2 separate regions of the Homo sapiens genome follow, and region 2 is linked to region 1. The links come from fine-mapping of genetic effects on gene expression. A gene starts in region 1. The other region holds a variant in brackets. All regions are shown on one strand. Distances are between the middles of the regions. Region 1 holds the start of EOMES (eomesodermin). Region 2 holds the start of CMC1 (C-X9-C motif containing 1).

The links. PIP is the estimated chance that this variant, and not a neighbour inherited with it, causes the effect.
Region 2: its variant is the best candidate, but not a certain one, in a credible set for the expression of EOMES in whole blood (INTERVAL, PIP 0.89).

The regions. Positions count from the first base shown.
Region 1 is chr3:27,713,860-27,730,393 of GRCh38, forward strand. EOMES (eomesodermin) reads right to left here and starts at 8,464. Exons shown (of 6, transcript NM_001278182.2): 1 at 7,555-8,464; 2 at 6,312-6,466; 3 at 5,501-5,622; 4 at 4,876-5,034; 5 at 4,728-4,789; 6 at 2,094-3,949. The coding sequence starts at 8,435. The coding sequence ends at 3,211. It overlaps LINC02084 (long intergenic non-protein coding RNA 2084), which reads left to right. Exons shown (of 2, transcript XR_007095851.1): 2 at 1-541. RefSeq lists enhancers at 230-1,126, 10,645-11,519, 14,365-15,296, 15,297-16,226, 16,227-16,534 and a silencer at 7,890-8,099.
Region 2 is chr3:28,234,888-28,251,421 of GRCh38, forward strand. It overlaps CMC1 (C-X9-C motif containing 1), which reads left to right and starts at 6,732. Exons shown (of 4, transcript NM_182523.2): 1 at 6,732-6,925. The coding sequence starts at 6,907. RefSeq lists a silencer at 6,945-7,024. The variant C/G (reference allele first, on the strand shown) is at 8,244.

The DNA.
Region 1 (16,534 bases):
CCAGAGCAGAAAAGAATTCTAGAGGCTACATGTGGGCTGCTTTCCCCCCTTCTTCCTTTTTTCCCTCGCAAACCAACAACCAAAAAGTGTTTGGTGATGGAAAGAACACCAGTGGAAAACGGCAAATAACAGTATTTCCAACTCCGAGTCAGGTCCTCTTTGCACTGCTTTTTCCTGTTTCATTGCAATTTATTGATTTTATTGTGGTTTTTTGTTTATTTGGGGCAAGAACGGAGATGTGAACCAGGACGAGCCAGCAGACCCCCGAGCCAGTATCTCCTCCCTGGGCAGGGAACACCGCCTGCACCGGTGCATACTAGGAGACCCTGGCGGAGAATGTAAACAAACCGGGCGCCGAGCCCTTGATCTTTATTTAAATAGAGGCTTGTTTATCGGTGTCATCCTAGGAGGATTAATTAGATACATCTCTTCACAATTTGGTGTCTGACACTCCATCTTAGGAATGCCTTATCATAAGGTGTTAATTGGGGCCACTCAGCCACTTACGTTTCTATTAAACACTGTGAGGGACTTTTCACAAGTACCAGGTTCTTTTTTACTGTACGATGCAAAAACATACAGGACCCGAAATAGACTAGGGCCAGAATCTGCTATATCCCGGCAGTGATTAGCACTTTGGGGCTTTCTAGAGGGCAGAAATAGGAGAGCACTGTTTTCGAAATTCCATCGCATCTCCCAATATTCGGTGGTTGGATGCAGATGTAAGGGGGCTGTTGGGGGTGTGGGGAAGGCGCTGACCAGGATAGGGGGGCTATGAGTCTCCCTTCCGGAATCTAAATCAGTCATCCACAGTACATATATCTTAAAAAGCACATCTTCAACGCTTTTGTCCTTGGCTCCCCGGTAAAGTTCGGGGCGCCTTTGCCAAAGTGTTTTGAGTAGGCCGTTCGGAAACGCGGAGCAGGAGTTCGAGCCCCCAAGGTCACGGGTGGCGCGGGAAGAACTCGGGCCCCAGAGGGACGGAGGGGAAGGGAGACAGGACAGTCGAGGTACAAGGTCCTGGCGGCCTTAATTGGGCGCAGAAGGGGAGGAGGTCTCGGCTGATTGCTCGCCTCCCAGCAGCTAATCCTCTTAGCAGCTGCATTTCCGCGCTACACAGTTAGCAGAATGATCCTCCCAGCTAGACCTTTACCCCGGGAGGGTCCAGGAGGGGGCTGGAAAGGTTTGCAATCTGGGCCTGAAGCCGTCTGCAGATAAGCCTGGCGGGACGTCTGGCTGGGGGGACAAAGGGGACCCTCCACCCCACTCTTTGGACCTCCCAGGGTTCAGCCAGGGGATGGGCTGTCCTTCGTCTTCCCGTGGAGCGTGGGCCAAATAAACGGAACTAAGCGCAAGGTGAACTGCTCCAAGGTCACTGTTTGCAGAGCGGCAGTGCACGGAACGACTGGAATCCTCCTTTGTAAGTGCCACGCCCGTCCCTAGCCTGCGCCTCAGACCGAGTCCGGGCGGAGTTTGACTGCAGCTACTGAGGCCGGCAGCCGGCGGCGGCGGGTGCGCAGCGTCTGGGTTCAGAAGAAAGCCGCAGGTGGGCGCAGAAGCTGAGCTGTGTGCAGCCCCCCGCTCCGCCGCGCCCCAGGGACCCTGAACTGGTGGGCGCTCAAAGGGCCACGGGGGTTCCCAGGGAGCCTAGGTGGGCCTAAGGATGGGTGGCCCCAAGTAAGCCTAGAAAAAAGCCCAGAGAACTTAGTGGCCAGGCGCTCTGACAGAGCCTGGTCTCCAAGAGCCAGAAGCGGAGGTTTTCGAGGCTTGGTTAAGTCTGATGTGGGCAATCGGCAGCAATCTTCCCTCCCCCGTTCCCCCGCCCCCCTCCCCCGCCCCGCCAACACCCATTGTCCAGACTTCCCAGTGGGGTAAGGAAATAGCCCCATTCCACTTCAAGGAAAAAAGAAGATAAACAAAACATCCCCACCCCCGCATGACTACAGTATCCAGTTAGAGATTCTAGAGCCTTCCGTGGAGGTAGGGGATGGGTGAGGCACTGTTAAAGCTGAAAACGATACAGGAGGAAGCAAAATGAGATCTTTAAAGCAAAGATGAAAACCCCAACAGCACAGAAGACAGAGCTATGTCCGTTCCCTTACTGAACCACATTTATTAAAAATGACTAAGACTGTACATAAAAATCCAAGATCTCTAAAATGCCTATAGGAGCTGTGGTATCAGGTTTTAGTTTCTTCACATTACCAAGTTAGGGAGAGGGGATGGCGCAAGAAGAGGATGAAATAGGAGTTTTCCTTAAACACGGTTCAAGTTAGTACATAGTAGCTGAATACATTCTTAACTATCTAAGAAGTAAACAGAATATTCCCAAATATCATGGGGATGATGAAACTCTCCCCTTGCCCCTGCAGCTGTTAAGTGATTTGCAAATTCTTTACAAAGCCAAAGCACCAGTTTTACATTATCCCAGACACCTATGTAGACTATTTGTACAATATATACCACATTATTCTATAGTGTATCTAAACACACAACTGTACACTTTTAAATTCTCCCTTTTTTTTTTTTTTTTTTTTGGTGACTCCTTAGCTTGCTCTCTCCTGAGTCCCACTGGCCACCCCAGCACACAGCAGAGGCCTAGCAAGTCTCAAGTGAGGCAATCCTGGACTAGGGCAAACATGGCTTGTTCCAAAAGCCGGGGGTTAAGGAATCAAAGTCAGGTGAAACTATCACTTTCACAAAAGCTTTTCTTGACTCCTGGGCCTAGTATCTTTTGCCCCTGGCAGAATGTAACAGCAAAATGTCTCCTTCTGAAACGGAAGGCACAGCCCTCTTTCAGAAGCAAAACACCTTAACACTCGGCTTCTATTTGCTTAAGAATTTACAAATAGAAATGAGAATCAAAGGTTTTAACTCATCTGATAGCACTGGGCACCCAATGTTCACAGCCTGCTTCTTTGAAGGGTTAGTGTCTCCCCAATAAATAAATACAGAACCTTGGATACCCTTCGAATTTTAAAATACCTTAAAGTCTTCCATTAATCTTATTTTTTAAAAATGCTAGGTTTGTTTCAGTTACCTGCAGCAATCAAAAAGCTTTGGCACCTTCTTTTAGAGAATTGCACAAAACAGGATGCATCAAGGTGGAAGGCAAACATCTTTTTGGCAACCTAGGCAAAGAAGACAACAAAAAACACCACCAAGTCCATCTGCAAAAAGTTAGCTAATTTTTGAGGTTAAAATAACTCTTTAGGGAGTTGTGTAAAAAGCATAATACCCTCCCATGCCTTTTGAGGTGTCTTTACTATACTCTTCAGCATTAATGTCCTCACACTTTATGGAGGGTGAATTTTCATTACTGGAGTTGCTAGGAGACAGCCGCCTTCGCTTACAAGCACTGGTGTATACTCCTGAATCATTGGAATCTAGAGATTTGATGGAAGGGGGTGTCTCTATCCAAGAAGAGCCAATTTCCTCTTTCACTTTCTCCTTGGAGAGCTGATCTTCAGAGAACACAGTGGGGCTTGTTCTGGAGGTCCATGGTAGTCCAGCTGCCATCTTCCTCTGGTAAGAACCTCGACCTCCCCACCCTGCCATTGCAGGAAAGGTTGGGTCTGGGTAATACCCCAGGGCATGGGATGTCTGAAGGGGCAAGGATTTAATGCCATATGGGAGCAATGTGCTAGAAGTATATTCAGATTCATAGGAACTGATGTCTAGTTTGTTGGTCCCAGGTTGCTGGACAGGCGTGACAAGCCACCGCTGGGGAGGGTTGGCCACCTCTTCGCTCTGTTGGGGTGAAAGGAGGCCGTTGGTCTGTGGCACGGTTCTCTCGCCATTATAATAGCGGGCTTGAGGTAAAGTGTTGACAAAGGGCTCCGGGAAGAAGGATTGAACGCCGTACCGACCTCCAGGGACAATCTGATGGGATCTAGGAGAATCCGTGGGAGATGGAGTTAACCTGTCATTTTCTGAAGCGGTGTACATGCTACAATATAAAGAGAAACACTTAAAAAAAAAAAAAAACCCTAATGTTGTCCCCAAACAAACCACCTCCCAGAAATGAAAAAGGCTTGTGTTGGTTATCTACACCGAAAGTGCTGGTCTGTTGGGCTGAAAGAACAGAGGCAGGAGATGCACTGGCCCATTTTAGCTGGACTCTTGGCTTATTGGGAAAAATTTCCCACCATGCAAGAAAAAGTTTCCTCCTAGGCATCAAGTATTTAAACTATAGAAAATCTACCTTTACTAGTCCTAGAACACGAAAAACTCAGATCAAACCTCCTTTGTCAATGTGATGGAAAAAACACTGGCTGTGGCGGTAGAAAACTCAGATTTTAAAAAGAGCAGGGCCTTGCTATTTCGTGTTGTGAAATTACATCCTCTTAGTTTCAGTTTTTTCTTATGTTAAAAAAAAAAGTGGGGGTGGGGGAGAGTAATAATATCTGCTCTTGGGAGGATAAAAAAATGGATCAAATGAAAAGAAAGGTATATATAAATGCAGATTCTTAAAATTTCAAATCTTCACTCAAATGCTAAAAAAACCTCTTCATTTTTAAGTCCTTAACATTTCTTCAGAAATTAACACAACCTTTCTGAGAAAAATCTAAAGCAAGATTAGTAAAGGAAAAAATTTTGGAAAAAGAAAAATATGTAAAAATCCCAAAGGTAAAAGCTCTTCCTAAAATACATTATCAGCAAAGTGCCTGTTGATGTATGTCCTGCTCAGAGATGATCAGGCAAGTGTGGATAAAAGCTGCACTTACGAATCATAGTTGTCTCTGAAGCCTTTTGCAAAGGGGTTATGATCAATCTTTAGTTGAGTAATCTAGATAGGGGAGAAAAACAGTCATTGAGTGATTTATCATGCTGGACCTTAGCTTTAGAGATTCTTGAGATGTCTGGGACACTCACATCGGTGTTTTGGTAGGCAGTCACTGCAATGAATTGCGTTTCTGAGAAGGTAAAAGTCTGGGTCTTTGAGGGCTCATTCAAGTCCTCCACGCCATCCTCTGTAACTTCAACAATATGCAGTCGGGGTTGGTATTTGTGTAAGGATTGTAAGACTATCATCTGGAAAGAGTACAGAAAAAAATTGCTAAATCTAAAAAGCCTCTTAGTGGTTCAACAAAATTAGATTTTGACAAATTATGTATTTTGGTATTGGACTTCTAAATGCTCCTCACTAACAGCTTTGTTTATTGCAAGTTTAAAGGTCTCATTATTGCCCCCCCCCTTTTTTTTTGAAATTTAAATCATAGCTGGGTATGTGGTTGTGATAGATATGCTTTCCTCTTGGTTTCCTAAATTCCCAAAATACTTCGCTATTTCTGTTCTTAATAGTCAACTCACTGTTATCGAAATCCAATAAGAAAGTGAAGATGAGAAAGGTCAAAAGAACAAAAATGGTTAGAAATAGGCGAGCAAACAGGTCACAAATGCAAATATTATAAATACAGTGAAAAGAGTAGGGACTCTTATTAGAAAAAAGCCTTATAGTCAAAGCCAGAAGATATCCCCTCCTGCTCTGTCACTCTACCTGGGTGTTGTTGTTATTTGCGCCTTTGTTATTGGTGAGTTTTAATTTCCCGAATGAAATCTCCTGTCTCATCCAGTGGGAACCAGTATTAGGAGACTCTGGGTGAACATACATTTTGTTGCCTAAGAGAAAATGAAACAAAACACAAAACCCAAGCATATAGGGCTGTTTACAAATGGAGAAAGCGGAGGGATGTCTCTTAGCTATGAGCAAGATATAAGAGCTAGACTTACAGTTGGTCTCCCAGTAAAAGTTGCTTAAAGAGGCCAGTGGAGACCAGCAGGACTACATCCATATCCCTCCCAGGCCCCTGTGCTTCCAACCTTCCTTGCACTAGGGACTCCCCTGAATGGCATTTCAGAATTTAGAAACGGAGCTAACAAGAGATGACTCTTGAAGGTCAATTTGGGGCCTTCTAAAGCTGTAAGGGCAACATCCGATGGAAGACAGTTGGATATTTATGGGTGAACTAAACTTTGGCTGGGCTTTCTCAAGTGAACATTAGAATCCCAGGAGCCCTTCCCACCTGGAGAGCTTATGACTACTGATTTGTTAAACGTAGGGATTGGGGGGTGGGGTGATGTCTTAGTTAAAGGTTCTAAATATCTACATATTGGCAGACAAGAAATCTGACTTAGCAAACTCTCCTCTCCGTCAAACAAGCAACTCAAAGACACTCATACTAACACCTCTAGGCCTCAGAATGGAAGGGGAAAAAAAAAGTGCTACATTTAAATGTGAGTTGTGTGAGTCGAGGGTTACGATTTCTTCCCGCCCGTTCCTCCCCGGCCCGAGCCTCTTCTCTGCTCACCCTGCATGTTATTGTCGGCTTTGCCACAGGTCACCCATTTGCCCCCCTGGAAGCGCCAGTGGTTGGGGTCCGCCAGCACCACCTCTACGAACACATTGTAGTGGGCAGTGGGATTGAGTCCGTTTATGTTGAAGCTCAAGAAAGGAAACATGCGCCTGTGCAAGGGAATAGAATCAGAAAAATCGATTTTAATTGGGATGTCCTAGAACAGGCCCAGGCCCCAGCGGGTTCCCCAGACACCTGGGATAGGGTCGGAACACATTTAAAAGTTTGCAGTGAACAGAATGCTGGTAGATCAAGTGGTCTGAAACTATGTAAAATATTTTTGAGTTGGCAACTCTTGGAACCTTTCCGTCTTTTCAAAAAAAAAAAAAAAAAAAAAAAAAAAAAAAAAAAAAAAAGCTTGCCCCAACATCGGTATATTCCAAATTCGCGCGTGCTTCCGAAGGCTCATATTCTCGGCCCTTTCAGACGCTCTTAAAATTTTTCTCCTAGAATGTTAAAAACTACTAATTTTTAAATGCACCATTTTGAAAAGTACCAGAGAACAATATTAGGTTATTCTTGTTAAAAATATATATTAAAACTTTAGGCTAAAAGTCCCCTTTGAGTGCCCCTCTCTCAGCACCCACCCCTCCCTTTCCCCAGAAGTAGCCAGTGTTAGCAGTTGGATGTATATCAGAACTTTCTCGCGCACCGAACCCGAGCCAGGTCTGGCTCCAGGGCAGATCTAACCACCTACTCCGACCGAGCTTCCGAGGCCGGCGCTCTAGCCTTCATGCCCACCTCCCGGAGACGCCCCGTGGAGACCCTGGCGCCTAAAACTGCGGGAGCCCATCTACTGCGCTCAGGTGGCCAGCTCTTGAGCCTTCCCTATCCGTGGCTCCTTGCCGGCATGCAGGCATGCACAAGCATACCGCCGAGCAGGAGGATCTAACGAATCCAGCTTGTGGACATGCCCTAATTTCCATTTCCGCCTCCTCCAGGTCTGTTCAGGTGAGGATGATGGGAGGGAAAAGCGGTGTACAGCCGTAACATTGGCACCCTGCAAGAGCCGCCGGGGCACTGACACAGAGGGACACCGCATTGGAGATGCGGTGTCTACGGAGATTTATTGCGCGCGGTGAAACACTCTAAGCACCGCGCGGAACAACTGGGTTCAGCTCCCTCATCCCGGACCTTCCCCAGGACCACACGTCACCCTTTATCCCCGAACCCAGGGGCCCCTCCACGCTGCGCTCACCTGCCCTGTTTCGTAATGATCATCTCAGTTTGGTGGCGGTGGAATTTGAGCCACAGAGGCCGGTTGCACAGGTAGACGTGGGCACGGAAGCCAGAACCTGGAACCCCCAGGCCCCCCAGTCCTCCGCAAGATCCCGCCGCTGCGGCTCCAGGGTACGGCCCGTAGAGCGGAGCCCCCTGGCTGTACTGATAGGTGCCCGGGCCGCCGCCCCCGCCGCTGCTACCGCCCGCGCCACTGCCCGCACCGGCTCCTGGGCCGAACTGCGCCCTCCCGGGTGGGCACACAGCCGCGGGGAAGCCGCCGGGGGGCAGCATGGAGCCGTAGGGGTAGCGCGCCCCGTTAGGAGCCGGGTACACAGGTCCGTGGGGCGCCCCAGCCGCCGCCTGGTACGGGAAGAGTGAGCAGGGCGCAGCCAGCTCCGACCCCTGAGGACCGGGGGACTGGAGGTAGTACCGCTCGGAGCTCAGGCTGTCCATGGAGTAGCGCGCAGTGGCCGCAGCCGCGGCGGCGGCGGCGGCGGCGGCTGCAGCGGCGGAGGGCAGCTCCTCCTCCCCGCAGGGGGAGCCCTTGCGGCCGTCCGGGGGCCCCGGCTTGGCCACTGCCGCAGCGCTGGCAAATGCGTCCCCGGCGTCGGTGTCACTAAGCATGGCCGCGGGGGCCCCTGCGCTGGCGGCTGCGGGCTCCCCGCTCACCGCCTCGCAGGAGAGACTGCCGGAAAACTTCTTGGACGCTTTGTCTAAGTCCAACTTCTGAGGAGAGGGGGCCGCGCTGGGGAGGTGGCCAGCGCTCCCGCCGCTGCCGCCTCGCGCACTCTCCAGCGGGTAGAAGTGCGCGCCAGGCAGGTTCACTGAGCTCACCAAGAGCTGCTCCCCTAACTGCATGCTTTGCAAAGCGCAGACGGCAGCTGGCTGCTTCCTCTCCTCCGGTGGCCTTATTATAAAGGCAGGATGGGGGAGCCAGCGCCCTCTTCCGAGGGGAAGGTAACTTCCCCTTCCTCCCGCGCCGGGGCTACCCACCTGCCGACTCGCGGGCCGCTACTGCGCGTACTGGCGCGCCCTGAATCCAGCGTCCTTTCCGGAAGGAAAGCGCCGTGAGTTGGAAAGCAGGAGGTGGAAACTAACCCAGAAGCCCTCTCCTTTTCCTTCCTCGTACCTCTTGCTCCTCAGGACCCCCACCCTCCTCCCAGGCTCACACGCTGGAAGAAGGTGACTTAGATCTTTGTCCCCATCCACCCACTAGCCCGCGCCTTTCTGCCCTTTTTCAATTGCCAAAGCATCGGTCAAGTTGACCACTTGGAAACTTATGGGCTGTCACTAGCTGCTTTATATATTTGCGGCCAGGGAGGGGCTTCCCGGCCTCACAGCCCGGAGACCCTCCTATTGGCTGGTGGAGGTGACACTAATTCAATTAGGCATTTACTAATTGGATCAAGTCGCCTGTGACTTTCTTTTCCTTTTTTTTTTTTTTTTTTTTTTTTTTTTTTTGAGACTGCGTCCCGCTGTGATAATCAATCCTGGTGTCTGTAATTTCGCCGGAATTTAGGGGGACAAAGTTTGGGGTCTCCATAGCGGTGTCCACCCTTGGCGCATTAGTCATCTCAGCCCTCCGCTGGAGGAATGAGATGGCTGGAGCAGATTTTAGAGGCCAGAGAGAGAAAGACTCTTCAAGCTGATAGCTTGCAGGGAAGCGCCCGTCCCGGAGGCTGGGGAAACTGGGGCAAGTTGGAGACAGGCCCAAGGAAGTCTCTTTCCTCGTCGGAAGCTGTAACTTCAAAGCACACCTTCCTCTTGTCGAAGGCAAACTCCCTGGCCTTCAACGCACAGAACCACTTTTTGTTTGTTCCCATCCTTTTACCCAGTGGGAAAGGTTTGTAGAGAGGAAACTCGCGCTAAGCTTTTGGGATTCCGGGGACGGCCAGAGCACATTGCCATCCTGGAGGACCTAAGCTCTCAGCTTCTAAATCAGAAGCTTGGACAGGGTACTGGGGACAGGACAAGAGTGAAACTAAGCGAGCTAACACCAACTTCATACTCACGCCAACACAACTGCTTTCGGGGAGACAGTCACTTTTATTCCCCACAATTTAAAATCCTTTCTGCTCAGTTTTCCTGATCCCGGATTCCGTCCCTTCACCACCATCTTCAGTTAGGCCTGACACCAAGAAACAAAGCTTCCCTAACAGCCCCACAGTTAGGATTCCCTGCGCCTCTGCTCTGCGGCAAATACAGAAGGTAGAATAATTAGTGAAATAATCAGTTTGATATTGAATTAAACTCCAGCTGCTTGTTTCTTCGCTGCGTTTCCTCAGATAGATTCAAGAGCGGGGCCGTCATATTTTATCGTTTCATTATTACGGAAGCGGGGGGCACGTTTCGTTGCGGATAAGGAGAAGCCTGAATATTCGCTGTTAATAAGCAATTACAGACGCCGCCAGTAATCGCTCCGGGAGCGCATTTTCCGGCTGAGATGTCGGGACTCTGCTTCCCCAACCGAACGCGATCACACGGGAAACTCTTCGCCCACAACAGATGAGATGGCCAAAGGATTGCTGAGTGCGCACACGCAAGTGTAGAACAGTGCGAAGCTTTCCAACCCAGTTTTCCAACCACAGCAGCACCAACATCGGCATGTCTGGGGTCTCCGAGAACGAGGTCCTTAATGCACTTAGACTCTCCAGGGCATTTATCACGGTTTTTTTTTTCTTTTTTGATGTGTGTGTTCGCGCGCTCGCGCGCTCGCGTGTGTGTGGTGGTGAAACCCAGGAGTGCGCGAAGATTTTCAGGGTCAAGGCACAGCCACAGGGGAGGGGGCAAGTTGAGACTAGTGGGCTGGGGCGGTGGCCTTGTAGGTCCTGGGACAGAGTGGCCAGGAGCAGATCGCCAGAAAGCTGGTACTGAGCGCGTTCTGCCCTGCGCTTCCTGCGTTTTGTGTCATCAGTATAGTTAGTGTTTGGCACGGCTGTTTTGATCACTACATTGTCCATGCCTTCCTCCCCTGCTTTAGTGTTATTTTGACCCAAGGAAGTCTAGAACATTGATTGTTCAAGTAGTATAGCTCTGTGAATACCTCATGACTGTCAACGTGAAGATCCCGTGAGGGGTACGCGAGCTCAAGGAAAGAAAGAGGCCGTGCAGCTTGGGCGGCTTGGACGACGTATCTATCCCTGGGCTAGCGGGTCCTGATTACTATTCGTAGGATCCTCCACATTATCCTTTACCTGAGTTGCAAGATATCTAAGGCAAAAGTAGGGATGAGAAATCTCCCTAATGTGAGACCTAATCTCACGTTATTTGGAGCTAGGGTGGCCAAAGGTACATGACAGTTTTGCGCTTTAACAAAGCAAGAAGCGGGCCTCGGCGTCCCTTCAAAATGCTTTTGACGCAGCCAGGGAAGCGCTTCGCGTGGCAAAGTGCCATCGCAGGCAACAGGCATCGTTCCGACCCACTCTGGCGCGAATAACGCGGGCCAGCTGTCCCCCGAGCCACATCAGAAAGCGTTGATTTTATTCCAGCCCCAGAGCAAGCTTTTGAAAGCGCATGAGTTCAGTATGAGCACCACCTAATTATTAAATATACACACGATGTATATAATTAGAATTTGTATTGATTCTTGGGGACAGGAAATTTTGGTTGATATCTACCCACTTCCCCAGTAAATCTATTATTTTTCCCAAACTTCAACACATTTTACATATGGAGGAGCAAAGACAAATTCAAAGAGAATAAAAATTCAGTTTCTATAAAACTACTCTAGGACCCAGGATTTTTGGAACATGGAAAATATGTACATAATATTATATTACATATTGTATTACATTACATTTGTAAGTATATGTTACAAATTCTCTTTAAAATAATGAAAAGCACTGTTTCAGCTACAGATCTTTTTTTTTCTGGCTGAAGATAAAAAATCTCATTTAATGGTTCCTCTGTGTTAATTAGCTAATCACATTATTATTATTATTATTACATTTAGAATATACTAGTCTAGAATGCCTGGAGAGTTATAGATGAGCAAGTCTGTGATTTCCTGCTTGAAATGGGCTTTCCTTTTGCTGGCTCAATATTATAGCCAGGGGAAGAGACATAAAAAATATTTTCACGTGTCCCAGCCACACTTTAAAATCCAGGCACTCCTTTCCAGAAGTAGGAATAGAAAAGAAAGCCAAAGCAGTGGCTTAAGTGAACATGTCAGGCAGCACCCTCCTTAGACTGGGTGGGCAAATAACAGAGCCTTCCAGCCTGTTTGCTGTTTGATTTCAATTACACCCCAAGCTTCATGAAATCCAAATGAGACATTTATTGAAAGGTGCCTGGTTTTATGTGGCTCAACTGACAGTGTATTGGAATACATTGAACAAAAACATCAACACTGGGGAGGAAACATGGAAACCCCTTGAAACCCCAGACCCAAATACCTGCTGGATTAACTCAAATCTTGTACCTTTCAGCCTGAGATGGAGCAAGCAGGAATCTTTAAAGGCTACCAGGAAGCCAAGGCCAAGTCTGTGTGTGAACACATTAAAGATCTCACGCTCTATTGTTCTGAGGAATAATACCAACTTCATACCACTGTCTTGGTCAAAGTTATTGCCAACTTGACCAGATGACCTCTTTATCTCTTTCTCCCCCTTAAAGGTAACCACTAGCCATGCATTGATCTTTTAAAAGCAAAACTGAGAAGCATTTGGTTGGAACAGGATTATTATATAAGAAATACATTTACACACATATGGGTATGTTACAGAGGTGAGTTATAGATGAGTGCAATGATATAAGGTTTACCTCTCCCCATGTGCCACCCACCCCCCACAACCAAGGGGGCCCATATAAATGTCCCAATAAATACTATTATTTTCACCCCCACTAAAAACGTGTTATCAAAACACTGTCCATGTTATTCAAACACTTTGTAAATTCTGAGCAGACTTGCTGCCGGTTCTCCTTTTAACCCTAGGAAAACATTCCAACATTAACCGGTCACCAGCGCTTCGCCTGGACTCTGGGAAAGCGTCAATGGGTTTTTTGTGGTGAGTTGGTCCTTTTACTATTTATCTATGGCCCTTTCTTTGTTGATGTTACATTTTATTTCACCAACTCAGGTTCACTCTTTGGCCCTTTGTTCTCTGATGGCCAGATCTGCCACCTCTGCTGTGCTTTCCAAAGAGGGAGGGAGCTTTAATCACCGTTAGGTTGTTCATGTTTCATTTTTTTTTAAGCAAATGTCCCGTAAGATAAAACATCTTGGCAAAGACAAGCAGTGTTGATTCTGCTGACAAGAGCAAGATACTCCCACCAAAAGTTTCACTTTTATAAGAATTTTTAGAATTTATATTTCACCATGACACTGAAATACACTGACCACTTGCTTTACAAAAAAACAAAAACAAAACAAAACAAAAAAACCCCAAACCAGAGCTACACATGTGTGACGTGAAGTGTTATATTAAACCCATGGTATTTTTTTCAACAAAAATGACCAATTTAAACTATTATCTTTGCTTTAAGTCTATATATCTACATTGCTAATGCACTTTGTGGTTCACTGTTAAAATATGAGGAGGTGAAGGAATCCTGAAATGGAAGTTAATAAATAAACACACTAATAGTTGCTTATTACAAAAGATAAATTATCTTCTCCTAAAGATTGAATCAAGAGTCTTTGGCAACAGCACAAAATCATGACTTACCTTTTTTATGAAAGTAATTTTTAAACTGCTAATGAATTTCTGTATTTAGCTGCTGTTTTATCATCATCATTATCATCATCTTTTTCTTCTTCCTCATCATGTATATGGGAATATATAATAACAAGAAAAGCCACATTAGGCAAAGAAAGTAAAACACTCTCAAGAAAGTGTATTTTGGGAACGTTTGGCTAATTGTTGCTACACTATATACGAAAGTTATACGGGGCTCCATCTATCTTGCTCATTTTTCTACCCTGAAAAGCCTGGAGCACAGTAGGTGCTTATCAATTAAATGAAAAGATTTACTAAACCTGTGTGCTGGAACAGCTAACAGAGGTCAGGGACAGTGTCAGGTCTTAGGCTTTATAACCACAAGGACTAAAGTTTTTTCCTAAGAGAAAAAGAAAACAAAGATCTTTCTAAATTAAAAGACATGATATTTTCATCTTTTTCAGACTTTAAAATATATCATTTTTAAGACCTTTTCTATCTCAAGGTTCTTACATTGTGGCATGGCCTTTGTCTGTATGTCCATGCTAAGCTTCTTCCATAGCAAAATAGAAAAAAAGAAGTTAGTGCTGGAATTGTAGTACAGCTGCTAAGGGAAGCAAACACCATGTCACCAAGGAGAAATGTTAATCTGAATGTAAATCAATTGTACTTTACTAACAGAGTTGACAGAGTCTATGAAAATTAATGTTTCAACAGAAGGCACACCTATGATACAGGTGCAGCAAGATGTCTACACAACAGGTGGGCAGAACCCAAATCCTGTTGACCAAGGCTTCAATATGACAGGGGTAGCTGGAATTCCCCAATCCAGACCCTATGTGAGAAAAGTAGGGAGAGGAAGTTTGGGTTGGGGGCAGAAATAAGTAAGCCCATAACATAACCAAGTAAGAAACAGTGAGAGGGAAGGAGAAAGGAAGGACAGACAACAGGATAGAAAACCGTCGCAGTCATTCCTTAAAGGTCTCCCTTTCCAGACTTCTAAGAGAAAACAGAACCTTGTATCAGAATTGTATGTATTTGTGGCTGTAACCTTTACTATCTTTGTGAGTCTGGGAAAGCTCTTTAACTTCTGTGTGCCTCAATTTCCCCACTTGTATAACAGCATAATTAATATGAAGCAATTAGAACAGTACCTGGCACCTACATAGGAAGTCTTTCCTACTACTCGCCATTACACTTAGACTGAGCTTACTTTTTACCGTTCTTACTAAGATACTGGAGCTAAATGAGGATGAATAAACCTTAGTCTTTTTCCTCCCGGGGATTCCCAGTCCGATGGGGGAGGCCAGGAGCAAACAGGTCAAAAGCAACGTGAACCAGGGGTAGGAAGCAGGAGGGAGTCAGTCAGAACCAAAGAGAGTCCCCAGTTACTCTAGCAGCTCTTCTTTATTTCCCCGAAAGGGGAAATCAAGTGCCCTCCCGGTGAGCTCGGCTGGAGAGGTGCACTTCAAAGCGAGGCGGCTGGGGCGCCCTAACCAGGCTGTGCCTTCCGCCCCCTCCAGGCGGCCATTAGCATTCTGTTTTTCCCAAGGCCTCCAGTATCTCCCGCCACCCGCTGGGATTTTGCCGTTCCGGCCGATTACTTGTCAAAGAAAGAAAATAGGGTATTTAGCTCAGCTTTTGTTCTCCACCTACTTGGTTAAACGCCTGACCACGAAGGAGTTAAGTGAGTAGTCGGAAGCCTCCCGCAGGGTTCTCGCTCCAGGAGAAGGCACCCTTAACTGGATGTCCAGAAAAAGAGGCCATCTGGATCCACTCGCTGTGGGTCCCTGCGGGCCTCAGTGGCGGCATCTGCAAATTAAGGGGACAGAGCAAGTGCAGAGCAAGATCTACCGCAGAGAGCGGCTGTCGAGGGAAGTCCGGAGGAGGCCCCGAAGGCCAAGCCGGCCTGGGCTGCTTAATCACTCGGTAGGGGCCGGGACGGTCCCTGGAACTCCCTCCCCCCACAGAATATCAAGGAGCCATAGTAAAGGCGTATCCAAGGGGCAACAAAGAGCAGCTAGGATCATTTTTCCACCACTTAGGGCTGACTTTTCAAGAACAGAGTTTATCTGCAAATTCACAAAAGAGGAGAATAAGAAAAGCAGCAGCTGACTTTGCTCTGCTTTACTTGTATAATCTTTTAAAAGAAAAAGCACCCTAAACTGTTATAATCCCATTTTACAGAAGAGTAAAGTGATGCTTAGAGAGGCGAAGACCCTGGCTCAAAGCACCCAGCTGAAAATGGTAGCCTGGGGATGTGAATTCGAGCGGTCTGGGCTGCGGGGCTCCTAGTGGGGGGATTAAGTACGTGTGAATGGTGGCAGGGCTGGGTCATTGTTTTCTTTGGGGGGGACAGATGTAGGCTATGGAACGGGGACCCTGTGAGTCTTCGGAGCAAGCCAGTGAACGGCATTCAGTACCCATCTACAGCCGGTGGACCTTCAGAATGAGTCTCTGGAGAAAACCGGGCTCCATGACTCGGTTGCAAATCCCAACTTTGCGGTAGAATCGGTCATCCTTGCTTGGCATAATCATGACATGGGTTGTCCACTCTCTAAGTGCTGGGGCTGGGCCAAGCCCTTGGCATACATCATCCCATTTAGGCTCTCACTCCCACCTCTTGAAGGTAGGTGCTTTCAGCATCTTCGCTTTACAGTTAAGAAAATCCAGGCTCAGAGAGATAAAATAACTTGCCTGAGGTTACACAACTTGTGAACCTTAAGTCCAGGAGGACCTAGAAGATGGAGAAGGCGGTACCTTCTGCCTGGAACTCTGAAACTTTTAACAGAAAACTGATCCCTCGGTCCCGAAGAGAGAGGCGCGGCAAAGCAACAGCCAGTTCTCTCCCTCATCCCCTTCCAGATAAATTTCCTTTTCTCCTACTCCTCGCTGGGGTTTGCGGTGCCCCTGCCTCCTGCATGAAAGCGCGCTCTAAAGCTAGGGTTTTTGGACTTTAGGAGCGCTTCTCGCCTCCCCCTAGACGTTTGAAGCCTTCCAATTGAGCAAGGGCTGGGAAGCGAGAAGGCTCCTCTGGTCTCTCCCTCCTCTGAGCGCGGGACCTCGGCGGACACCCTAATCCCGAAACACTCCTCTCTGGGACTGCGCACTTGCCAGCACGACAGCCAACTCCGCCTCAGAGGAGTCTTTTAGGGCTCTGAGCGAGTGGCGAATGCTCCCCCGGTGATGCACTATCGCTCCCACCCACGCCCTGGTACGCGCAGCCCGGGAAAAAGAAAAAAAAAAGTCCACGTAGGGGCTCAAACCCAGGCGTCAGGCGCTGCAGTCAGGGAAGGCTCC
Region 2 (16,534 bases), 520 kb after region 1:
AGAGAGGACAATCATCATAGTAACAATTACTATAGTTTAAGAATGGCCTACTGTGTGCTGGACACCACTGTCAGCGTTTGTAACAGGGCATCATTAAGGCTCAAATCAATCATGCGGAGGTGGGTTATATTTGTACAGATGAAAAAATTGAGGCTCAGGAGGATAAACAATTTACCAAAAGTTACATTTAAAGTAGCAGAGCAGCTATCTCTATATATACAACAACATGAATAAATCTCATAACCATGAAGTTGAGCAAAAAAAAGCCAGATAGGAAAGACTACACACTGTATGATTACATTTATATAAAGATCAAAAACAGGCAAAACTAATCAATGCTCAGAGAAGTTATGAGAGTAGCTACTTTTGTAGAGAGAGGTTTTACTAAAAGGAGATAAAAAGGAAAGTTCTGGATGACTAGAAATGTTCTATATTTTGACAGAACATTATTCTGGGTGGTAGTTCAAAGTGTATAAACATGTAAATGTTCTATATTTTGACAGAGCATTATTTTGGGTGGTAGTTCAAAGTGTATAAATACGTAAATACTTAGCTGCACAAAGATTTGTAGTCTTTACTGTATATAAGTTATATCTCAATTTAAAAAGTTAAGTAAAGTAGGGGAGAAAAATGAGTTTAGCTCTGTGTATTAGGCCATTCTCACGTTGCTCTAAAGAAATACTAAGACTGGATAATTTATACCAAAAAGAAGTGTAACTGGCTCATAGGTTGGATAGGAAGCATGATGCTGGTATCTGCTTGGCTTCTGGGGAGCCTTCAGGAAACTTATAATCATAGTGGAAGGTGAAGGAGGAGCAGACATGTCACATGGCCAGAGCAGGAGTGGGAGAGAGAGGAGGTGCCACACACTTTTAAACAGATCTCACAAGATCTCATTCACTATCGCAAGGACAGTACCAAGAGGATGGTGCTAAAGCATTCATGAGAAATCTGCCCCCATGATCCAATCACCTCCCAACAGGCCCCACCTCAAATATAGGGGATTACATTCAGCATGAGATTTGGGTGAGTACATACATCCAAATTATATCACTCTGTTTAGTTCCAATGGTCCTAGTGAAAACTAGATACTTTTTCTGCATCAGTTTCAAGTTTTTATATTAACTACAAACTCTTACCCATTTTTCCAGGATAGCCCAAAGAAGTCTTTACAGGTAATTTAATAAACCATTGTATGTAAGTTAATGTAGCAGAAATTGCAGATTACAAGGAGGTTGGTTACGAAAAGTTGATATAGTAATCTGGGACTAAGTTTATAAAGAGTTTTGTGAACCTTACTAAAAGAAGGGGTTTGAATTTTATTTATATAAGGAACTACTGAGGATTTATATATGTATGTATGTATGCATGTATTTGTTTCAACTGGCAAGTTAGATAGTATATATTTATAGTGTACATCATGACGTTTAAAATACATATTGTGGAATGACAAAATAAAGTTATTTAACATATGCATTACTCTACATACTTATCTTTTTTTTGTAATGGGAATACATAAAATTTATTACAGAGTAGCAGTTTTCAAATAGACAATATATTGTTACTAACTGAAGTGATCATGATGTACAGTAGATCTCTTGAACTTATCCTTCCTGTCTAATGGAAATTTTCTATTTTTTTAATTAACATTTCCCCAAGGTCCCCAAACCCCTAGCTTCTGGTTACCACCATTTTACTCTCTGTTTCTATAAGTTTGGTTTTTTCACACTGCACATATAAGTAAGATCATGCGGTATTTTTCTTTCTGTGCTGAGCTTATTTCACGCAAGAGTCTTTCAAAATTGAAGGACACATAATGTCCTTCAGGTTCATCCATGTTGTTGCAAATGACAGAATTTCTCTTTTTAGAGCTGAACAGTATTCCATTGTGTATATATACCATGTTTTCTTTATCCATTCGTCTATTGATGGACCCTTAGGATGATTCCATGTCTTGGCTATTGTGAATTATGCTGCAATAAAACATGGGAGTGCAGATATCTCTTCAGCATGTTGCTTTCATATCCTTTGAATATATACCCAGTAGTGGGACTGCTGGATCATATGATAGTTCTGTTCTTAAGTTTCTGGGGAGCCTCCAGACTGTTTTCCATAATGGCTGTACTAATTTACATTCCCACCAGCAGTGTGTAAGTGTTCTCTTTTCTCTATATCGTCATAAATGTTTATTATCTTCCTGTATTTCTGCTATTCTAACAGATCTTAAGTGATATCTCATTGTGGTTTTAATTTGAATTTCCCTGATGATTAATGATGTTGAACATTTTTTCACATACTTATCATTTATATGTCTCCTTTTGAGAAATGCCTATTAATGTCCTTTGCCCATTTTTATATTGGGTTATTTGTTTTCTTGCTATGGAGTTGTTTGAATTCCTTATATATTTTGGATATTAGCTCCTTATCATTTGTATGATTTGCAAATATATTCTCCCATTCCATAGGTTGTCTCTTACTGGGAATTTTATATAAGAAATTTTATAATCATATTTGCTGTTGTGGGTGACATGGAATAGAGAGAATAAGTGGGAGGAAGAAATGCCTAGGAACAGAGAGCCAGTTCAGAACTATTACAATAATATCAGCACAAATGGGCAGACCTTGGACTAGGAGTTATGACTCTGATTGGCAGATGAAATAAAGATATATTAAGGAAGGAGAACTGACTACATGTTTTGATCAATCAGATGTAGAGAAGGGACAGTCAGGAGCTGATTGAAGTGGATAGGTGAACTGAGTCAGATTAAAACAGGCCCTATTCAACAGCCAGGAAAACAGGGACAAAGTATTTTATTCTGGTGACAGGCTAACACTAGACAGGTTCTCAGGGCTCTAGTGAAGTGATTTGGGATTCAGGGAATAATTGTAGTCCTTTAAAAATATTTCAATGCTTTTATCAGTTGAACTGTGTCTCCCAAAATTCTTGTGTTGAAGTCCTAGCCCCCAGCACCTCAGAATGTGACTGCATTTGGAGATACGGTTTTAAAAGAGGTAGTTTAGACAAAATGAGGCCATTAGGATATTCATTAGAGTTGGTCCCAATCCAATATGGCTGATGTCCTTACAAGAAGACATTAGGAGACACAGCCACACAGAGGGAAGACCATGTGAAGACACAGGAGAAGATGCCATGTACAAATCAAGAAGAGAGGCCTCAGGAGAAAGCAACTCTGCCGACATTTTTGATCTCAGACTTCTAACCTGCAATTGTGAGAAAATATTTCTGTTGTTTAAGCTACCCAGACTGTGGCACTTCATTATGACCACCCTAGCAAATAATAGAAATGTCAACATGGACCTAAGTCCTTTTAAACCAGAGAAGGCACAAGCCATGCAAACTGGGTGCTAAATAATACAGCTCAGAAAGTAGGCAGGGCCACCAGGGACCCTTGATTAGTGATCTTCTGGCCGAGAACTACTTCTAAATCCTATCCTCTGGTAGAGATGAGGCGTCTAATATTCTTTCAAGTTTGATTCTTACTGACTCAAATTTGAAATCTCATTGATTTCAAGTTTTATTCTCATCTGTAGCAGAGCCAAGCTGCAGATGAAAAGTCTTTACTTCTGATGCTAAGAAGAGGCAGAAGCAAGGAGGGGCTGACTGATAATCTCAATTTCAAAAAACAACTAGCTGCATATCAACATATAGCATAAAGGAATGTTAGATCCAATTCAGAATTGACTCAAAAATAATCAAGATACTTGTTTCTACTTGCACATTCCTTTGCCTTCACATACAAAGAGAAATTCACTGTGGTTCAACTACTGTTATTACCCTGCATTACTGCAAATTTCTCTGAACTGATCTTTCTGTTTCATTATCGCCACTGTTAGCCCCCAATAATGAGGATCAAGGCAGATCATTTCAGGCATGAATAGGCACATTGCCATGATTTTCTCATTTGTCTGTATACATTTGCCAAAAAAAGGAATTATCCAGAAATCTTGACTCTTTGTCTTAGTCTTCTAAATCCAATTTCAAAGGATAGATTCTTCCTTTGCAATTACTCTCACATCCATCCTTTTATATATCCCAGTTGAGGCTCTTTTCATATCTTGCCCAAACCAGTACAATAGCCTCCTTACTTTTCTGCTTGCCTTTTAGCTCTTTCCTCGCTGCCTACATTCATCCTGCGCAAAACTTTTATAAAACACCTTTAGAAAATTTTGACCACAATGCTCTTTTCCTATATATTAACCTTCAACAGATTCTGGTTGCTTATAGTAACACATTCAAACACACCTCTGTCTAGTGTTTAAGGCTGTGGGAATCTGGACTTTTCTAGCCAATGCATAACTGCCCTAGCTTCCCAAATCCTAAAATGCATTGAAGTAGTTTCAAGCATTGCCCACCACATGCCTGCCACACAGCCCCGTGGTGCTTCCTGCCACACAGCTGGGTGCTTCCCACCCCTGTGCTTTTGTTCATGTGATTCCATTCCTTAGCCTGTACTCTGCCATGCTCCACCATGCTCTTTCAAGAACAGTTCAAATCCCAGATGCTTTTGCTCTCATTTTTCTCCCAGCATGAGATGCCCTTTTTTCTGTCTACTCATTGTACCCATCGTTCAAGGCCGAGCATAACTTCTAACTTATCTCTGAAGTCTTTCCTAACCATTGCGGCATTCAATCCTTTGAGAAAGGCTTTTGTGGGGTCACCAGTTACCAGACGTTGCCTGAGCTCTAGGGATCACAGCTGGGTAAGACACTGTTCCTAATTTCCAGGATGATGTCCTCTCCTCTTTCCTTGAGCTCCTTTTGCAGTTACTACCCAAAGAATTGCCTATTAATAATGCGATGCCTCAGGAAATTTCTTCTGTTTTTAATTGCCAATTACATTCGCTTAACTTAAAAAATGACTTATCTTCCCTAGGTATAGATTGTAAAGACTCAGTTTCCCCCCAAAGTATCTGGTTTAACATGGGAGTAGAGAGAGATATACTATTATGTATCAGGTATTGGGCTACCGTTTTTGCTAGTGCTTCTCCTGGTGTGATACGTCTAGCAGTTCATTCTATGGGGCACACAAAACCCATGATATTACAGATACTGTTGCTTAGGATAAGGCTAAAGTAAATAGTGCCTATTTAAGTGTTTTTAAAAATGTGTTGATTTAAAAACAAATGTTAAATAGTAATGTTTCAAGTAATAGCTATGGCAGAAATGGTAGAAGTGGTCCTTTAAAGTCTTTCAAATGCATTGTATGATATCACATTTATTCCTCAGAACAACCTTGTAAATTGGAAACCAAAGTCCAGAAAAATAATAGAACTTACTCAACTCACTAAGATAACAGATCAAACTTTCCTCCTTTACCATAATACCCTTTTGCATATAGAAAGATTTAGTTTAATTCTTGAATATGGGTGTCTGACCTGTGTTTTCATACTCCATCTCCTCAAAAAGATTGCTTTAGCTTTCTAAATCAAATCCTTCACCTTCAGAACAATAAAAGAGGCATACCAGAGTCATTTTGGTGTATTTCTAAGCATATTTACAAAATATACAAGGAAAAGGACCTGATTCCCTGGCTGGGTGAGTGAAACGTTAATTCTTCACCTTGGCACCTCAACCTACAGCTGTAATAAGGGCCGTTATGCCCAAATAGGCCCTTAAACGGAAGACCTGCTGAGCAGAGACCCACTTTCCCAGCCCTGCTCAACTGCCTCAGCTTTTCTGCCAACTGACCAGGCGGAAGCAGCAGCAGGGGAGGAGGGACTGCAGGTAGGTGGGGAGGGGATCATTTTGAAAGCCCTGAATCCCTTGCAGGGAAGAAGCAGCTGCTCCTTGTTTTTCTAAACATCTGTCCCATCTGTCCCAGGCCTCAGCTCACCCTTTCGTGGCTCGAGCCAGTTAAACGTGAATTTGACAAGGAAGCACTTCTGAAGGCTGGTTTGTGAGTGGAAATGAACCTAAGTGCCACCTAGAAAGTTTCTTCTATTGAGAAGAGGTGAGTAGTGGGTCTTCAGCGGGACGGCTATTACCTTCCTTCATTTTACTCTCACAAAACATACAGCTTTTACTGATAGAGGCAGGATTTGTAACATCACCCAAATCATACTGTACGTCCTGAGGATATTATTTCACAACATAGAGGTACTTCTAGAGCCCATATTTTAACGTCTAGGAGAGCCACAGTCTTTGATTTGAAGGAGAAATAACGATATTGCACACACCATATCACCTTTATGGTAGAACAAGCTGTGAACAACTAGTGCGTGTGGCGTTTATCACATTTAACAGCGTGTTGCTTTTATTTGTCTCCTCTGCCACACTGCTCCTTGAGAACAGGGACGTTATTTTTATTGTTATTTTCCCCTCGTATTCAGAACCGTGGCTGGAACTTGGCAGGCATGAAATAGACATTTATGAATGAATGAACGTTAACGAAGAAAAAAAAAGGAACTGGATGATTCATTTGGTTCTCCGAAGGCGGGTATGGGGGACGGGGCTCGGACTTTGGCCCAGTCACCGAGTGAGGCACAGTCCCAAAGTCCTGCAGGTCCGCCTCCAGTCACGGCCGACCCGGGTCTGCAACTGGTGCACAAGCCTCCTGAAGCGAGGCTGCGCGCGTCCTGCACGGTCCCGCCCCAAAGGCACGCAGACACGCCCCCTTTCCTGGTCATTCCCCCTGCGAAGTCAGTTCCACTCTAGTTACAGGATTGGGGCGGGGCCAGAAAGGCGCAGGCGCAACGGGCGGCGGAAGTAGGAGCCTGGGAAGGAAGAGGGAACGGGTCCTGGCGGTGCTTTGCAAAGGGCCCGTGTTTCTGTTGCGGGAAGCTCCCGGGGGTCGCACGTGCGTCCGAGCCCAAGCCCCTCCCCTCCACTCCCCTTCCTGCGTGCCCCGGAGCCGCCAAGCGGCTACGTTCTTCTCGGCCCGCCGAGATGGCGCTCGACCCCGCAGGTACCGGGGCGGGAAGCGGGGTTTGCCGAGGGGCCTCGCCCCGGGTCTCACGCCGCGGGCCATGCGGGCTGGATGCCGACCTGGGAAAGGTGCAGAGCTCTGGGTAGCATTGCTTCCACCAGCGTCTCCTCATACCCGGCGGCTGCTTCGCCCGGTCTGAGGTCATCTTCTCACTTGTTGGGGATTATGGTTATCTGAGGTTGCGTTTGTTGTCTAAAGTATCATCCATTGTGGTTTCCAACTTAACGCGACTAGTCTCTTCATTGTCACCCTCTTTTCGCCCCTTAAGGTCACAGATGCATTTAATGTATGCTGCAGACACTCTGGCCCCAGAAAAATTTGTATATTTGTTCTGGCGCACAGTTTTACATTTCTGTTTGGGAGTTCATGGACCCCGAGTTCATCCTTGTAACCCAACTTAAAAACATATTTCAAAGGATCCATCACTATGGCAGGAGTCAGTTTCTTTGGAAAGGATCTTCAAAATCTTGAATGTTGTTTTAATCTCTTTGCTTCCAGCCACTTCCGTTTGCAGCAATAGTTAACTTACCCTCGAATTCCCGTCCTTGTGGAAGGTCACCTGCAGTATCTTTGCGTTAGGCTATTTTTGCAAGGGAATAGATAACATTTTTGGAGGGAATGGTAGTTGGTCTAGTCCATTTCTTTCATTTTATGGATACAAAAAGTCAAAACATTGAGAGGTAAATGGCGTCAAACTTGGGAGATTCAGAAATGGAAAATGCTCTTTCGGAGCCTTCAAGGAGCATGGAAAATATATGTAGCACAGAAATAATGTTTTAATTGAACATGTTATTACCATGCTAAGTGTTCTCTATTATCCAACAATAATATGTGGTATGGTAGGTCCTTTTAGCTCCATTTTACAGATTAGGAAACTGAGGCGAAGAGAAGTTAAGTGACTAGTCCAGCAGGTAGTGGTAGATCAGGGAGTACTCTAATTTGAAGCATAGAGGAGTTCTGGAACATAATGATCATATTCATTTTGGACTAGGTGGTTATGAAGCAGTTAGCAGTTGATCTGGGCTTTGAGGGATGGAATTTCCAGTGGTTGGAGCTGGAGAAGAGGCAGCCCTATGAGCAAAGGTTTAGATAGTAAGGTGCACTGTGCGATGCTTGGTTTCAGGATGACTACCATGATTTGGTTCTTGAGGGTAGAAGGGGTAGAGTATAAGTGAGGGGTGAGTAAGGAAGGTTCAAGTTTAGGCCCATATAATTTATGGTATCTTTTTTTTTTATTTTACTGAAACGGAGTCTCACTGTCGCCCAGGCTGGAGTGCAGTGGCGCTATCTCGGCTCA[C/G]TGTAGCCTCCGCCTACTGGGTTCAAGCAATTCTCCCACCGCAGCCTCCTGAGTAGCTGGGATTACGGGCGCCCGCCACCACGGCCGGCTAATTTTTGTATTTTTAGTAGAGATGAGGTTTCGCCGTGTTCGCCATGCTGGTCTGGAACTCCTGACCTCAAGTGATCTGCCTGACTTGGCCTCCCAAAGTGCTGGGATTACAGGTGTGAGCCACCGCACCCAGCCTAATTATGGTACTTCTGAACTTGAAGTGACCTTTAAAGTAATCTCATACGGATGAGGAGACTGAGAATGAGAGAGGTTAAAGATTTCCATATATCTACACTTTTTGAATTTAGACAAGGAAATTTGGGAAAAAAGTCTTCATACTTGCTCTCTTCACTTGCTTACCTTCCAGTTACTCATAAGCCACTCCAATCTTGTGTTGTACCCAAGGCCACACAGCTAGTTGCTGGTAGAGTCAAGTCTGGTTAGAACCTAGGTAATTTCATTTCCAGTCCAGTGCTGTAGACCATGCCACCTTTTGAGTATTGATTAAACAAAGACTTGTTGAGTGTCTGGTATATGTCCCATATTGTTCTGGACCCTAGGGAACAGTAGTACATAGGACAAACAAAATTCCTGCTCCCAATAAAGCTTATCTAGTGGTAGAAAAAACAATTAACACCCCCTTTTCCCCCTACACAGACACGTGCGTGGGCACACACACATACACACACACATTTTTACAGATTGTGATAAACATGAAGAAAATAATGTCATGTGGTAGATGGTGAAGAGATTAGTCAGTGAAGAGCTTTATGAGGAAGTGTCATTTGAATTGGAATCTGAGGGATGAGAGGAAGCTAGGCAGAGTGTGCTTGGCCATCAGGTAGCAAATACTTAAAATATTTAACTTGAACGTGGGTCAGAGTGTGGAGGGGATCCATAAGGAAAGATATTGGGAAAGTAGGTAGTCACTAAATGCCTAGATATTGCAGAGGCTGCAAGTCCTCAAAGGCTGGCTGTGATAATAAAGCATTTGGATTTTTTCTAATGGCATCAAATGCCTTTAGAATCTTTTAAAGAGGGCAGTAACATAATTTATGTGTTTATTATCCTCGCTACAGTGGTAGCATGCATTGTAGAGGGGTCAGGTCATAAGTGGAAGAAGGGAGACAGGTTAAGGGATAGGAGCAGTAGTCCAGGCCAAATATGTTTGTATCTTAGCCCAAGATGGTAATAGACAGATGGAAAGAAATATACAGCGTCATGAGGAGAAATTGACAGGACCTGTGGTTGCATTGAATAAGGATGGTGAGAGAAAGGGAGGAAACAGTGGGCACCGTGGCTCATGCCCTTAATCCCAGTGCTTTGGGAGGCCGAGGCAGGCAGATCGCATGAGCTCAGGAGTTTGAGACCACCCTGGGCAACATGGTGAAAATCCATCTCTACTAAAATACAAAAAATTTAGCCAGGCATGGTGGCACACGCCTGTAGTCCCAGCTACTCAGGAGGCTGAGGAATGAGAATTTGAGCCTGGAAGGCAGCGGTTGCAGTGAGCCGAGGTTGCGCCACTGCACTCCAGCTTGGGCCACAGAGTGAGACTTCGTCTCAAAAAAAAAAAAAAGAGGAAATAGGGATAATTCCAGTTTTTGTACGTCAGCAGCTGGGTGGAAGGTCATGGTCAAATCTAACAATGTGATTATTGGAAACTTCATCAAAGGAAGGAATGGAAGCAATGGAGAGTAAAAAAGTGGAGTCAGCAAGTAGGAAGGTTTTTTTTTTTTTCCCTAAATTGTTTTGTCTGTTTAAATTCCAGAATAAAATGTATGGAAGCCAGTTTTTTTTTTTTTTTAATTTCGTGTTTATTTGGTTCATACGTTGAAGCTTAGTTTCACATTTTGATGTTTTACTGCTTTGTACAGCCCACGATGGTATTTGCCCATATTGAGTAAGTGAATAATAGATACACCAATTGAGGTTCATTTAGCAAAATCTGTTTTCCTATTGGTTTATTTTGTATTTTCTGTGATCTTTATAGAAGCTTGATTTTCATTTGGCAGCAACTTTTAATTAACTTTGTAGGGTCTCTGTTTTCCTCAAGAAACTGTGAACCCAGCGAAAAAATGCAGGTTACATGCTTATACATAGTTTTATTTACATTATTTTCCTTTTTTTTGTTAATGTAGCAGTAATAACAGCAATCTTTGCTTATTGCCATGTTCCGGACAAATTTTCAGACATGATTATATTCTCAGATGATGGCCCATAGGAACCTGCACCTGATAAATTTGATTTTTCACTTTCTCTATCAACTAAAGTAATTCCTTTCTCCCTTCTTTGACCTTTCCCCTTTTTAGTTAGGTTCTCTTCCCTCTGTCAACATAGATTCATTCTCTACTTATGCAGAATGGGGCATGGCAGCCTAAGGGAAGTTTCCTTAATCAGGTGTGTGTGTGTCCCTGTGTCCTTCTATTGCTGTTTTTTTCCGGGAACTTAATAAAAGGAGGAAGATGGGACAGAGATAGGGCTTAGGGGGTGGAAAGTGGGTTCAAGAATTTCATGACATTCCATGAGAAGGTGTTTAAGGTATATGTGTCTTGGGAAGATTTAATTATGGATGTTCTTGGAACATTTGGGTTGCAGTACTCCAAGTTGGGGTTCTTTCAGTGGTTCCTGTGGGAATGTAGGTAAATTACCTTTAGGGGTACAGGAACAGTACTAGCCCTTACATTTACTAGAAAATTTTAAGTTAGACATGTAAACAAACTTGAAGAATCTTTTTTGAGCATTGTATGTTTAATATGTAAAAGGTTGTGGAGTTGATTAGAAAAATTTTTTATTTTTTTTAGTGATGGGGTTTCACCATGTCGCTTAGGCTGCACTTGAACTCCTTGCTCAGGAGCACTTGAACTCCTGGGCTCAAGTAATCTGCCCACCTCGGCCTCCCAAAGTGCTGGGATTATAGGCATAAGCCACCCTGCCTGGCCTATAAGAAAAATTTTGATTTTATTATTGCCGCCATATCTCTAGAGTATCTTCTTAGACATAAATTACGTTGGTGGCTCAGAACAAAAAAAAAAAGACCTAACATCTACATTTTGTATATTTATAAATTAAAAGCATATTTGCCATAGAAAATACATTATTTTTGTCTCATCGGATTAACAACTCTCTGATGGTTGCTCTGTGAAATTTGAAAAACACAGGCTTAAGCAAAGACAATAAGAAAGAAGAATTGAGATCAAAGAGGAGTATGTGCCATGGCAGTGGGTTGGGGGTTGGGATTTCAGTTTTGAAGCATGAAATGATCTGTAAACCATTTCAAGGATTTTGAATTTTATACTAAGAACAATGGGAAGACACTGCAAGTTTTTAGGTAACGGAGTGACAAACAGAACTCTCCTTATTTTGTGTTGATCTGACTTTTGTTTAGATCAAGAATAACCTTGATCTCAGCCACATACTGCATACATGATGTGTCTTTCCAGAGTATCCCATCTGGAGGTACATGGGTATCTGTCTCTCGTAGGTGATGTTAATTTTGATTACCCACTCAAGGTTTTGCCCTGTTTTGTTGCCGTATTTTCTCTGTTTTGCAATTAGTAACTAATCTGTGGGAAGGTTAAGACCTTGTAAATATTTGCTTCTCATCAAATATTTCTCTTTGATTTGGGGTCCATTGATTTTTTTTTTTTTTTTTTTTACCTGATTCAGTCTTTCCCATAATGGTTGCAAAATAATGATTTTCTACCTCCAGCACACTCCCTTCACATTTACTAGATGGTTGTTGACATTTTACTGTAAGCAAGAGATTGCTTTGTTTCATTTTCATTGATTTATGAATTTATTATTGGTATTTTTGGTAAGGACTCATGAACTGCTGTATTTTCAATCGTTTGTACTCTGTTAATGTACATAAGTATTTTTTGTGTTCAAATTTCCCCAGATTTGGCCAGAGTTCCCTTTAAGCTAGCTTCTGGATCTTTGTCATATACTCTCACCATTTTTTTGAGCATTTCCTTTTTATTCCCTCACACAAGGTATCACTGCTTCATCTTGTACCTACCCTGGCCAATCCATACAATTAGTTATTTCTCTGAGAAGCCCTGGTTCCTTTTATTTGGGCACAGTATTAGAGAGTAAGAGCTGGTCACTAGAACTGCATGTAATTTGGGTGGTTTATTAATAGATTGCCTTTAGGAAAAGAAAAAAAAAACCCTTAAGAGAGTAAGGAAAATAGGAGACGGGAGGGGAAAAATCTGAGCAAGGATGTGGTTTCAGGTCTTAACCTAATCAGCTCTGGTGTACCACATGGTACATACAGTTTATTGTGCCTTGGAGGCAAGGGAGCTGGGCTTTCATGCCCTTTTTCAGTCATTGGTTACTGTAGTAGTTGGGAGAGGGACAGCAGCAAGGAAAACAGCAAAGGGCTACCATGGCCAGGGGCAGTCCTGAGAAGGTTGCAGATGTGAATGCTCCAACATTCTCTGCTGCAGGAGGGATACCAGCTCTATCCTAAAAATAATTTATCTGAATCTGTTAGGAATCTTAGTTGGATAGTAAGAGTTTTGATAGTAGTGAGAGTTCAGATAGTGACAGGTCAGATAGGAATGGGTACTTGCACACATGTATACATACACACAGGTGTGTGTACTGCATCCAGTAAAGTGTCACAGGTTGTGGTTAACAAGTTTGAATAACACTGGCTTAAGATATACCTAAGGTAGGCTAAGCTGTACTTTTTTTTTTGTCTTCTAGGCCATCGTACATGCTGTTCTCTCTAGAATTTCTCCCATCTTCCCTATCCCCAGGTCTACTGAATTCTTGTTCATTTTTCACAACTCAATTTAAAATCAGTTTCTTAGGAGAGTTTTCCTGATTGCCACCACCTCCAGTTAAACATTTTTTTTTAAGGTTTAGGATTAAAAACTCCACCAAAATATCATATAACCTATGTATAGAGTTGTTTTCCTTTTAGATATAAAATCCTTTTCTTTGACGAATAAAAGGAAACCTTTTATTCAGATATGATGCGCCTATATGTAACAAATAATTGGAGAAATAAAGAAAAACATAATTTGAAGAATGGGAATGTTCTACCTGTGTAATAAATAGTAAATATTTTTCATATGAATCCACCTCTTTAAATTCATTAGAGACCAGATAAAAGGATAGGTCAGTTAATTTCACCTAGATTATAGAAGATTGGCCACCTCCTCCCAGGGAGGTAGTGTACTGTTGTGGAATCAACACCGAATTTGGGAGTTAGTAAGACTGACTTATTGTCTCAGACTTTGTCATTAACCTGTCCTTAATGACATAATATGAGGTTTGAGGATGAGAAGTAGGGAAAGAGATGTATCAGATAATTGCTAAGGTTGCTTCAAGCCTTGAACTTTTATGATTCTAAATATTAATACTTGTCATAGGTCTCAAGGGGTTCTTGACTCCACACAGAAATAAATTCAAGTTTGTGTCTTGTTGCCTGGATTAGTATCTTTTTTAATTTTTTGTTTGGGGTGTTAAAATCATATGTGTAAAATTCTGTAGATGTCAAAAATATGAGAAGTATTACCTTGTACTTGATATAAGTGGACCAAACAAAATTGTGCCCAAATAAAACTATTGATACCCAAGTTAACATTCTCCCCGACAATCCTCTGTTCTATTTTTGCATTTTTTCTTTTTTTTTGAGACAGAGTCTCGCTCTGTTGCCCAGGCTGGAGTGCAGTGGCGTGATCTCAGCTCACTGCAAGCTCCGCTTCCTGGGTTTGTGCCATTCTTCTGCCTCAGTCTCCTAAGTAGCTGGGACTACAGGCGCCCACCACCATGTCCGGCTAATTTTTTTGTATTTTTAGTAGAGATGGGGTTTCACTGTGTTAGCCAGGATGGTCTCGATCTCCTGACCTTGTGATCTGCCTGCCTCAGCCTCCCAAAGTGCTGGGATTACAGGCGTGAGCCACTGCGCCCAGCCTATTTTTGCATTTTTAAGTAAGAAGATTGAAGGAAAAAATTGCTAAGAATGTGGTGTTTACCATCCTGCATTGTGTTTTGCTAAAGAACTGTTACTGGGAGATTCTTACAGATCAAAAGATATGTTAATTACCTAAACATGACTAATTGGAATGTAGAGTATCACATGTTTATGCTGCAGAGTAAGGAACCTTGCTTGACTGATTCATTATTGTATACACAATCCCTGGTGTGGTGATTGGTACATAATAGGTACATACGTATTTGTTTACAGTGTATCTGTAACTATCAAATACTAAAACTCTTTTAAATATACGTGTCATTTGTTAAACAGTTAAAACAATTTTATTGCATATTTACCATATGCTAGGAGTTAGAGGGAATTACAAAGATGAGTTAGACGTGGTCTCTGACCTCATTAAAGTTAACTTTTACTTGCAGTAGTTCTCAGTCTAGCTGCATATTATAATTATTTGGGGAGCCTTAAAAAATATCAATGCCTGGCTTTTACCCCAGCATTTCTGATTTAACTGGTCTGGGGTGGGGCCCAAGCATTAAGAATTTTGTACAGCCCTCTCAGGTGGTTCTTGGGTACAGCCAGGGTTGAGAGCTTCTGGTACCAAAATCTGTCTTAGTCTACTCAGGCTGCCATAACAAAATCCCATAGACTGACTTGAGTGACCCACACAACATAGACTGGGTGGCTTAAAAAATGTACATTAATTTTTTTTACTATTCTGGAGGCTAGGAAGTTCAAGACCAAGATTCAAGGAGATCTGGTTGCTGACAAGGACTCTCTTCCTGACTTGCAGATGGCTGCCTTCTCCCTGTGTGTTTACATGGCAGTGAGCGGGGAGGGATGGGGGAAGAGGAGGTTGAGGGAGGAGGAGGAGAGAACGAGAAGGAGAGAGAGCCCTCTGCTTCTTATGAGGCCACTAATCCTATCGAATTAAGGCCTCACCTTTATGACCGCATTTGACCTTAATTACCTCCCAAAAGCACTGTCTCCACATACAGTCACATTGAGGGTTAGGGATTCAACATATGAATTTGGAGAATGGTAAACACAATTCAACTCATGCCAACCACTGATCTAGCAGGAGAAGATTGGATATATAGTGTGATGTGATGTGTTTAAGTCCAGGTGTGATTATAGCAACAGAACGAGTGCAGGCAAAATCTTGGGGTTAGAGGAAGGAGAAATCACTTTTTAGTGCTGGAGGTCAGGAAGAACTTTGGGATGGAGAAATGTTGAATTGAGTTTTAAATAAGTAAACTTTGATAACAAAAAATAAGAGGTTGAAGATGGAAAATAAAGACTGAGATTGAACTAGAGTTTGGCTTTACCTGTTACTTGCCGGGTAATGCTGCAAGATTGCTTTGAGCTTTCTGAGTCTTAATTTCTTTGTATCTGCTTCTAAATGAGATGATGTTTGTAAACCAGTTCCATCCACCACCCTTTTCTTCTTTCTGTAAATATTTATCGTGTTGCTTCTGTGTACTATATAACTATAAGCCGATTTTTCAGGTAAGAAGGGTAACATAACCACTAGGTTGGCAAAATGAAGGTTTACATTGTAGGAAATTTAAGTTGGAATTGAGCTGCTGGTGGGACTTAGAAACCACCAGTAGATAGTTGAAAATGTGGAAAGTTGGAGATGGAGATGAGCACTGAGAACTCAGTATCATAAACACTATCTTTAAAGGTGGAACCTTGTGGGATTGCCCCAGGAGGATTAAGTACAGATATTACCTTGGAAGTGTGTATAGTTCTAGTATTGTTACCATTGTTCAGGATATTTTTGAAACTCCTTTAAGATTTCCCTTTGGATTCTTCAGTACACTCGTCTTAATATCCTCATTTTGGCAAATCTTTGTTCTGAAAGTTAATTTGAATTTCAGCCAAGGTTTAACCAGAGACAGTCTGGTGAAGGTGATAGACGATCATCCTGGGAAATGCTGCCTCTTCCCTTGTCTCAGTTTGTTTTATGTTGCTATAAATGAATACCTTAGGATGAGTAATTTATAAAGAAAGAAGTGTATTTAGCTCACAGTTCTGCAAGCTATACAGGAAGCATGGCATCTGCTTGGCTTCTGATGAGAACATTTATGCTGTGTCAGAACATGGCAGAGAAGATCAAAGGGGAAGCGGGCATGTGTGAAGAGGGACCAAACGTGAGAGGTGTCCTGACTTTTACAACAATCCAGTCTCTTGGGAACTAGTCATTTTCTCTGAGAACCAGCCCACTCTGAAGAACTAGTCCACTCCAGCAAGAGCAGGAATTCATTACTGCTAGAAGGGCACAAAGCTGTTCATGAGACATCTGCCCTCG